Linked DNA regions of Homo sapiens. The protein of the gene in region 1 purifies or fractionates together with the protein of each later gene. This does not show direct contact. Each region holds a gene or a part of one and is shown in the gene's direction. Other genes may lie near its edges. The genes, in order: C1orf159 and LRP8.

Region 1 (3,812 bases):
GTTCATGTCATTCTCCTGCCTCAGCCTCCCGAGTAGCTGGGACTACAGGTGCCTGCCACCACAACCGGCTAATTTTTTGTATTTTAGTAGAGAAGGGGTTTCTGCATTTTGGTCAGGCTGGTCTCGAACTCCCAACCTCAGATGATCCACCCACCTCAGCCTCCCAAAGTGCTGGGATCACAGGCGTGAGCCACCGCACCCCACCGACTAAGGCAAGTTTTAGAGCAGGAGTGAAAGTTGTTGAAGAAGCTTTAGAGCAGGAAGGAAAGGAAGTACCCTTGGAGGAGGGCCAGACGGGCGATGTGAGAGATCAGGTGTGCGGTTTCACCTTTTGACTTGGGGTTTTATAGCCTGGCAGGCTTCTGGGGTCTTGCACCCCTTCTCCCCTGATCCTTCTTCAGGGTGGGCTGTCCACCCATGCAGCATCTTGCTAGTACTTGGGCGGGAGCATGCGCCATGTGTTCCCTGGAGGGAGGGAGCATGCCCGGTGTGTTCACTGGAGGGAGGGAGCATGCCCCGTGTATTCACTGGGGGGAGGGAGCATGCGCTGTGTGTTCACTGGAGGGAGGGAGCGTGCGCGTTGTGTTCACTGGAGGGAGGGAGCATGTGCCGTGTGTTCACTGGAGGGAGGTAGCATGTGCCGTGTGTTCACTGGAAGGAGGGAGCATGCGCTGTGTGTTCACTGGAGGGAGGGAGCGTGTGCGTTGTGTTCACTGGAGGGAGGGACCGTGCGCCGTGTGTTCACTGGAGTAGTGCCCATGCTCACCTGAGGCGTTCTTCCGTTACCTGTCAAACGTCCCTAGAAGGTCATAGAACGGTTACACGCCGCCATTTTGCCTCTCAGTGCACACGCTTGAGCCAACTCGCCCAGTTCCTGAGATCGTATCGGGAAGCTGCCCATCACCGGATTTCATGTGTTTTCTAGCTATTGGGAGCCTGTCTTTCCCTGGCGCTGGGTGCAACCAGTTCTTTTAGACAGTTAACAGCCACCTGACCATCACCTGATGGTGGCCTGACATTCCCGGTGGGGGGATGGGCCCGATCCTGCCCTGCTCACGTCTGCTGAGCCACCTACGGCAACCGCCCGACTCCGGTGTGCTGAGCCCACGGGTAGGTGGGCAGCGACTACCATGCATGTCAACAAAGGGGGATGTCTCCTTTACACCCCATCAAGGGGTTTGCGGTATTTGTTTTCTATCAAAGCACGAGAGGGATCTTTAGGTAGAGAGGCCCCAGACAGTTCTTATTGGGCCCTTAAAGCTACGTTTCACGTTGGCTTCCTTTGCTTGCTACGAAGATGACCAGCATTAGCTACACGGATGCAGTGGAAGCTCCAGCCAGCCCTCGGGGCTGTGTTTACCGAGGTTCAGCAGCGTGAGAAACCCGCCAGTGGACCCTCCCGCCTCCCCTTTTCAGTTACTGCTGCCTGGGCGGCTGGAGTTACGGTGAGCGTGGGTGTGGTCTACCCACTGCCCCAGCCGGTGGTTGCTTTTACAGGGTTGTTTTGCAAGATGTTACTTATTTAAAATCACAGTGACCTGAGGCATCATTTTTTTCTTGAAACCAGTTCTTTGTTGTTGTTGTTGAGACGGGGTCTGGCTCTGTCGCCCAGGTAGAGTGCAGTGGTGCGATCATGGCTCACTGTAGCCTTGACCTCCCAGGCTCAAGAGATTCTTTCACTTCAGCCTCCCAAATAGCTGGGACCACAAGTATACGTCACCAAGCCCAGCTATTTTTTTTTTTTTTTTTTTTTGGTAGAGATGAGATCTCACTCTGTTGTCCGGGCTGGTTTTGAACTCCTGGGCTCAAGCGATCCTCCCACCTTGGCCTCCCAAAATGATGGGATTGCAGGCCTGAGCCTCCACACCTGCCCTGAAACCAGTTCTTCTAAGGGAAAATAAGAGTGGTCAAAGAGTGTATAGCACAATTTAAATTCTCACTAAATTTTTCATTGCCTTGTAGAAATTTTCATCCCATTATTTAGCTTTTTGGCTCCAATGAGATTTTCAAAATAGAAAATGCATGTGTTTAGTTACTAAGGCATAATTTACATGCAGTGAAACACACAGAGCTTGTGTCCAGTTCAATTGTTTTGACAAAGGATTCACCAGACTCCTGTCGTGATGTAGAATCTGCCTGTGATCCATGGAGATTGCCTCGCAGGCTGCTCCAGCGCCCGCCTGCCGCGCCAGACAGGAGCGCTGCTGTGATTTTACCGACACTCTGAGTGTTAGGAGTCACACGTGCGGGCGGTTTTGCGTCTGCCACGGCTCACGCAGAGAACTGTTGTTGAGCTTCCTCTGAGGTGCTGCACAAGGAGTGGGTGTGGGATGCGCTGTTGCGTGCTCGTCGTCTCTGAGGGCGCCCGGGTGGGTTTCCGCTGTCTGAAGAGTTGGGCCTATTTTTGTGCACGTGTTTGGCGGGCGTGTGTTGTTTCTCTTGGGAACGTGCCCGGGGGGAAGGCTGCATCCCAGGTGTGGAAGTCCCAGCGGTTCTGTGTGTCCCCACAGCCGAGAGGCTGAGTGCCGTTTGGTCGTGGAGGCTTTAGTTTGCATTTCCCTGACGCTCACCCGTGTTGAGCACTGTCCACTCATCTGTTGCCATTCGCACACGTTTTCTGAGTGTCCGAGGATGTCTTTTGCCCATTTTTTTGATGACCAGATTGTGAAAGTCCTTTATATATTCCATATTCAGGGCTTTTGTCTGGTACGTGTACTGTGACTATCTCCCATTCTTTGATTTGCCTATTAATTTTATTACTGATGTTGTAAACTAAGAATAAAATCCTAAGTCCCCCGCCGACTGAACGAGCTCCCTCTTGGTCAAGGGGACCCCAGAGAAACCTTAAAAATTGAGTTTCCGGCCATAAAAGGATGGGAGGTTGGACACACCTGGTTATACTGCCACCCTTTTTCAGTTTAGACACAACTGACCAACATTAGTGTTAAAGTGGAGATCACGAGACTGACAGACTCTGCGGCAATAAGACGCCGAGTTATAATCAGGACCTAAGGCCGTGCCAGGCCGGGGTTAAGTCACACACCCTTACAGTTAAAGAATAAGGCTTGGGTTTTCTTTTCCTCTAGCAGTTAAGCAGGCACTGGCCTGAGACAAGCGGTATGGAAACAGTGATGGCTCGCTGCCAGGCACTAACTGACCCCCCATTTCACGGCCATAACTACAGCGTCACTTTCCATAACTTCCTCCTGATAAGACACCACTGGCCACGGACTGGTTCTGCTGGTCTATGGAGGATGTGACTGGAGTGACTCCCGGGCCGCGCCTCACCTTTGGCCATATAGGGCCTAATTGTCTTACATGTAAATGTGAAATCTCACCTCTCAGTGAACATGGGTCCTGCGTTACATGCATGTTTATCTAGTACACATGCATTAAGACAGGAGAGAGGAGCGCTTGAGCCCAGGAGTTCAAGACCAGCCTGCGAAACACAGCAAGACACCCTTTTTACCAAAAAATAAAAATAAAATTAGCCAGATATGGTGGCAGGCATGTAGTCCTAGCTACTTGGGAGGCTGAGGCGGGAGAGTTGCTTGAGCCCAGGAGTTCAAGATGGCGGTGAGCTATGATTGCACCACTGCACTCCAGCCTGGGCAACAGAGCAAACCCATCTCTAAAAGAAAGAAAGAAATTTTAAAAAGGAGGAAAGGAAAGAAAGGAGAAAAGAGGAAAGGAAAAAGGAAAGGAAACTGTTCCCATTAAACACTAACTCCCCATTCCTCCCTGCCCCCCAGCCCCTGGCAACCACCGTTGTCTTTTCTGTCTCTATGAATTCGACAACCCTGGGAACCTCA
Region 2 (3,812 bases), about 52 Mb from region 1:
TGTCTGCTCCTTTCCTCTTGGCTGTGCCTGGGGAGGAGAGGAGGGCCTGCATCCCCCATGGCACTGCCCAGCAGGCCCTAGCAGGCCTTGGGAGTGTTTGCTGAAGACTTTCCCTTGGGCCCTCCCAGGTCAGCATTCCCCGGTGTGAGTCCCTTGGGCCTCAGGGATGGTTGGCTTCTTCCTCCCCAGTTGTCTGCTGGTGGCCGACTTGACAACTTTCCTCCTTGGGGAAATGCTGGTAGCAGGTGAAGCCAGAGAGAGAGAGACCCCCAGGGGGCAGTGAGGAGCGAGAGCCCAGAGGGCGGATGGAACAGGCACGCCCTTGAAGGAAGTAAATGCATGCATGCTCTCCCAGCACCAGGTTAGTGGTCTACTCCCAGGCCCATGCTGTCCCAGGGGGCCAGCACTGGGGTCTGTGGGAGGGTGTGGGGTTGTGTCCTTAGGGTTGTGGAGCCAGGCCTTGCAGCCCCAGGCCTAAGTAACGTTGGTAGCACCTGCCCCCCAAATGCCCACACATCCAGATCACCCAGGCTCTGAAGGCCTGGCAGGGATGCCACTTCCTCCAGAGATGCCTTTCTAGACCCCTGTCCTCCAGCCCCTCAGGCCCTGAGCTCCCACAACGTGTCCTTTTTCTTCCCGCAGTTGCAGATCCTTCTCAACATTGTGCACTCCGCCAGCCTTGTGCTGGGCAGTAGGAATTCCAAAGTCGTTTCCTCAAGGGGTAGCTAATAACAGCTATTGGCTGCCTATATCCCATGCCTGGGACCACGTTGGACAATTCACATCCTTTAACTTCACTACTCACAACCCTGGGAGGGCTAGTTTTTCGTTCTCATTTCGAAGATGATGAAACTGAGGCTCAGAAAGGAGACGGAACTTGGCCAATGTCATGACCATTAAGTGGTGGAGCCAGGAGCTGACCCAGGTCTGTCTGGTCTGGAGCCCAGACTCTTCTTAAGCCGTTCCCCGCTGAGCGCTGTCTACCCTGGTGGGGTCAGAGGCTGGTGCTTGGAGGGTGTGGGAGGAAGTAGGGAGCAGCTGCAGGACTCAGCAGTGCCTCCCTGAGCTACCAGTTTCTGACCTGGGGAGTGGGACTGGGGAGGGACCCTGTTCTCTGGAGACCCCGCAGAGCCCTCACATAGGCCTTTTCCAGCTCCCATGGGGATGACATTCCAGTTTTCATAGGCTTCTCTCAGCCTTTGCCTGTTAGATGCTGATTCTTCTTCTGACTGTATGGAAGGGGAAACTGAGAACCTGATGATAGTGATGCACATGACCTCAGGGAGTGTCAGCCCAGGGTCATCTCTTTTACTCTCTGTAGTAACACGGGGCCTGGCTGCCTCCTCGCACCCAGGCTTAGAAAGGTGAAACTAAGGCCCTGATGGTCGAATTGGCTCCATCGTCAGTAGGGCACCATTCTCAGAACTCAGGTGTCCTCAATTCTGGGTGGGACTGGAGTCAGAACTGTATGTGCTTCCCCCTCCCACCCCCACCCTCTTTGTTCCCTGCTGGATCCGGGAACAGGGTGCTCTCAGGCTGAGGGGTGGACACAAGCCTTTTGCAGTACCGAAGGGCTTTGGGCTCCTGACTGGGGACCTCAGGTGCACCACTGGCCCCACTGGGCCCTGCTTGCCCACTTCTGGATTGCCAAGAAGTCATCTAAAATACTCACGTTAACACTAAGAAGAGTTAGGGAGCGAGCTAGTGAGGGGCTTTCTCATGCAAGACCTCCTTCAGCCGGTGCCTTGAGGTATCATGACTGCATTTCGCAGAGGAGAGAACCAAGACTCTGAGAGATGAAGTCACTTGCCCCGGGTGGCCCCGCTGGTCAGTGGCAGGACTGGGCCATGCCTGTCTGGCTGCAGGTCTGAGGCAGCTGAAAGGAGATATGCATTCACACATCCCAGTCACGATGACAGTAAAGTGTGGCTTGCAGGCTGTGCTGGGGCCTCTCTTCCTTTCCAGGCGTCCCTCTTTGCCAGCACCTGCTAGTGGGTGTGCCAACTCCCTCCTGAGCAGCCCAGCCCCTTGGGCGCCCTCCAGCATGAGCTGGGTCCCCCGGCAGCGGTTTTAATTATCAGCCCTGCTCACCCCAGCTCCTCTCACAAGCTGCCATATGTCATAGACTCCAGTAATCACCCCGCAGCCGGAGTGGCAGGGGAGGGGCTGAGGGCCTTCAGGGGAATCCTGCTCAGTCTTGACCGAGTTCCTCACTGACTGTACCCGCTCTGACCTCTTTGTCTCTGGTGGGGCCCAGCCTAGGTACCCACAATGGGAGAGCCGGGCCTAGCTGCTTTGGGGGCATAGAATGCGGCATGCTCTCAGGCGCCATGGAGTGTCCTTGGGAAACTGAGAGTCACCCAGCGAGCCCAGGGCTGTGGGGCTCATGTGGTGCACACAGTTCCCATGACCCCTCATGGCCTCTACACGCCTGCCCCTTGGAACGTGGCATGTGGCAGGACAGACACCCCAAAGCTGTCTGCCAGTCTGTCTAGGAGTCCACGGGAGTGGTCATTTGGCCCCCATCCTCCCCTGGTCACTGGCCTTGAGGTACCACAGGGGACTTCATCCCAGCCACTCTGGAGGGCATCTTAGTTTCCAGCCCTCTCAACCTGCCGTAATCCTTGGATGGCTTTTCCAGTTGGTGCCTCACAGGTGTGCTCCTGGGAGGCAGGCGGTGCAGGAGTTCATTATGATCCCCATTCCTTGATGAGGAAAACGAGGCTCAGAGAGGATAAGAGACTCACCCAGTTATTGGTAGTTCTGGAGCTAAAACTCACTTCAACTGATTTTACTTATTTAGTTTTCCAGGGTAAGTAACTTCTGGTTAGCTGAAAGTAACTTTACACTTGTAATGAAAAACATAGTTAATAAAGAACAGGAAACGAAGGTTGCAGTGAGCCGAGATCACACCACTGCACTCCAGCTTGGACGAAGGTAGTTCTCACCCTTGCTAGTACCACTATGTAAGCAGCATAGCCTTCTAGAGATTTTTCTCTGCATGTGAGCTCTTGGGCATGAACATATGTATTTTTTTTTTTTAACAAAAATGAGGCCATGTTATGCCGGTTGTTTTCACATATGGCTTTCTATGGCAATAACAGTAGTTCACATCCTTGTTTTAAAGGGCTAGATAGTATTGTATTGTGTGGATCTTCCATAATTTAATGACATTTTCTCCCGTTGATAGATGTGTGTTTGGTTGCTTCCATGTTTTTCCCTGCTCTGTGCAATGCTAGGATGGACATCCTTGAACTCCATCCTTGTGCATTTGCTTGGTCCTTTCTTTAAGATAAGTTCTTAGGAAAGGAGCTGCTGAGTGTGTGCATTTTCATCATTGCCGTTCTGCTCTCTAGAGGGGAGAATCTTTCCCATCTCACAACTCTCTCCCTCTATGGCCCCATGGCTCTCCTTTCCAGCGAGGCAGGCAGCTGAAGGACTTCCCTCTTCTCTGAGCACAGGGCCACCTCATTCTGGTCCCATGGGACAAAGCAGCCATATCCAGGCCACAGAAAGCAAAGCCAGGAGAGAGAACAACGAGCGGTGTTCTGGCCCCAAGGGCTTTCACCCCCACCAAAAAAAAAAAAAAGCAGAAGAGTACAAAACTGTTCCTTCATTCTTCTCAGGATATTGGTAGAAGGCATCTCCTCCGCAGCGTTCTAATTCTTCTATCTATGCCCCTAACTTGCTGTGTGACCTTGGGTGAATGGCTCTCCCTCTCTGAACTTCATTTTCCTTTCACTCATTGGTCCTTATTCCACCTGCACTGCCCCCAGCACTTGGAGCAGACTCCTGTGCCTGGAGCTGGGTTC

What was found.
Region 2: the proteins of C1orf159 (region 1) and LRP8 fractionate together in Homo sapiens (co-fractionation; one large-scale study listed by BioGRID). This does not show direct contact.

The regions. Positions count from the first base shown.
Region 1 is NC_000001.11:1,109,307-1,113,118, reverse strand, and holds part of C1orf159 (uncharacterized protein C1orf159 isoform 2 precursor), read left to right. Parts: intron 1-3,812.
Region 2 is NC_000001.11:53,318,018-53,321,829, reverse strand, and holds part of LRP8 (low-density lipoprotein receptor-related protein 8 isoform 1 precursor), read left to right. Parts: intron 1-3,812. UniProt on the Homo sapiens protein: Cell surface receptor for Reelin (RELN) and apolipoprotein E (apoE)-containing ligands. LRP8 participates in transmitting the extracellular Reelin signal to intracellular signaling processes, by binding to DAB1 on its cytoplasmic tail.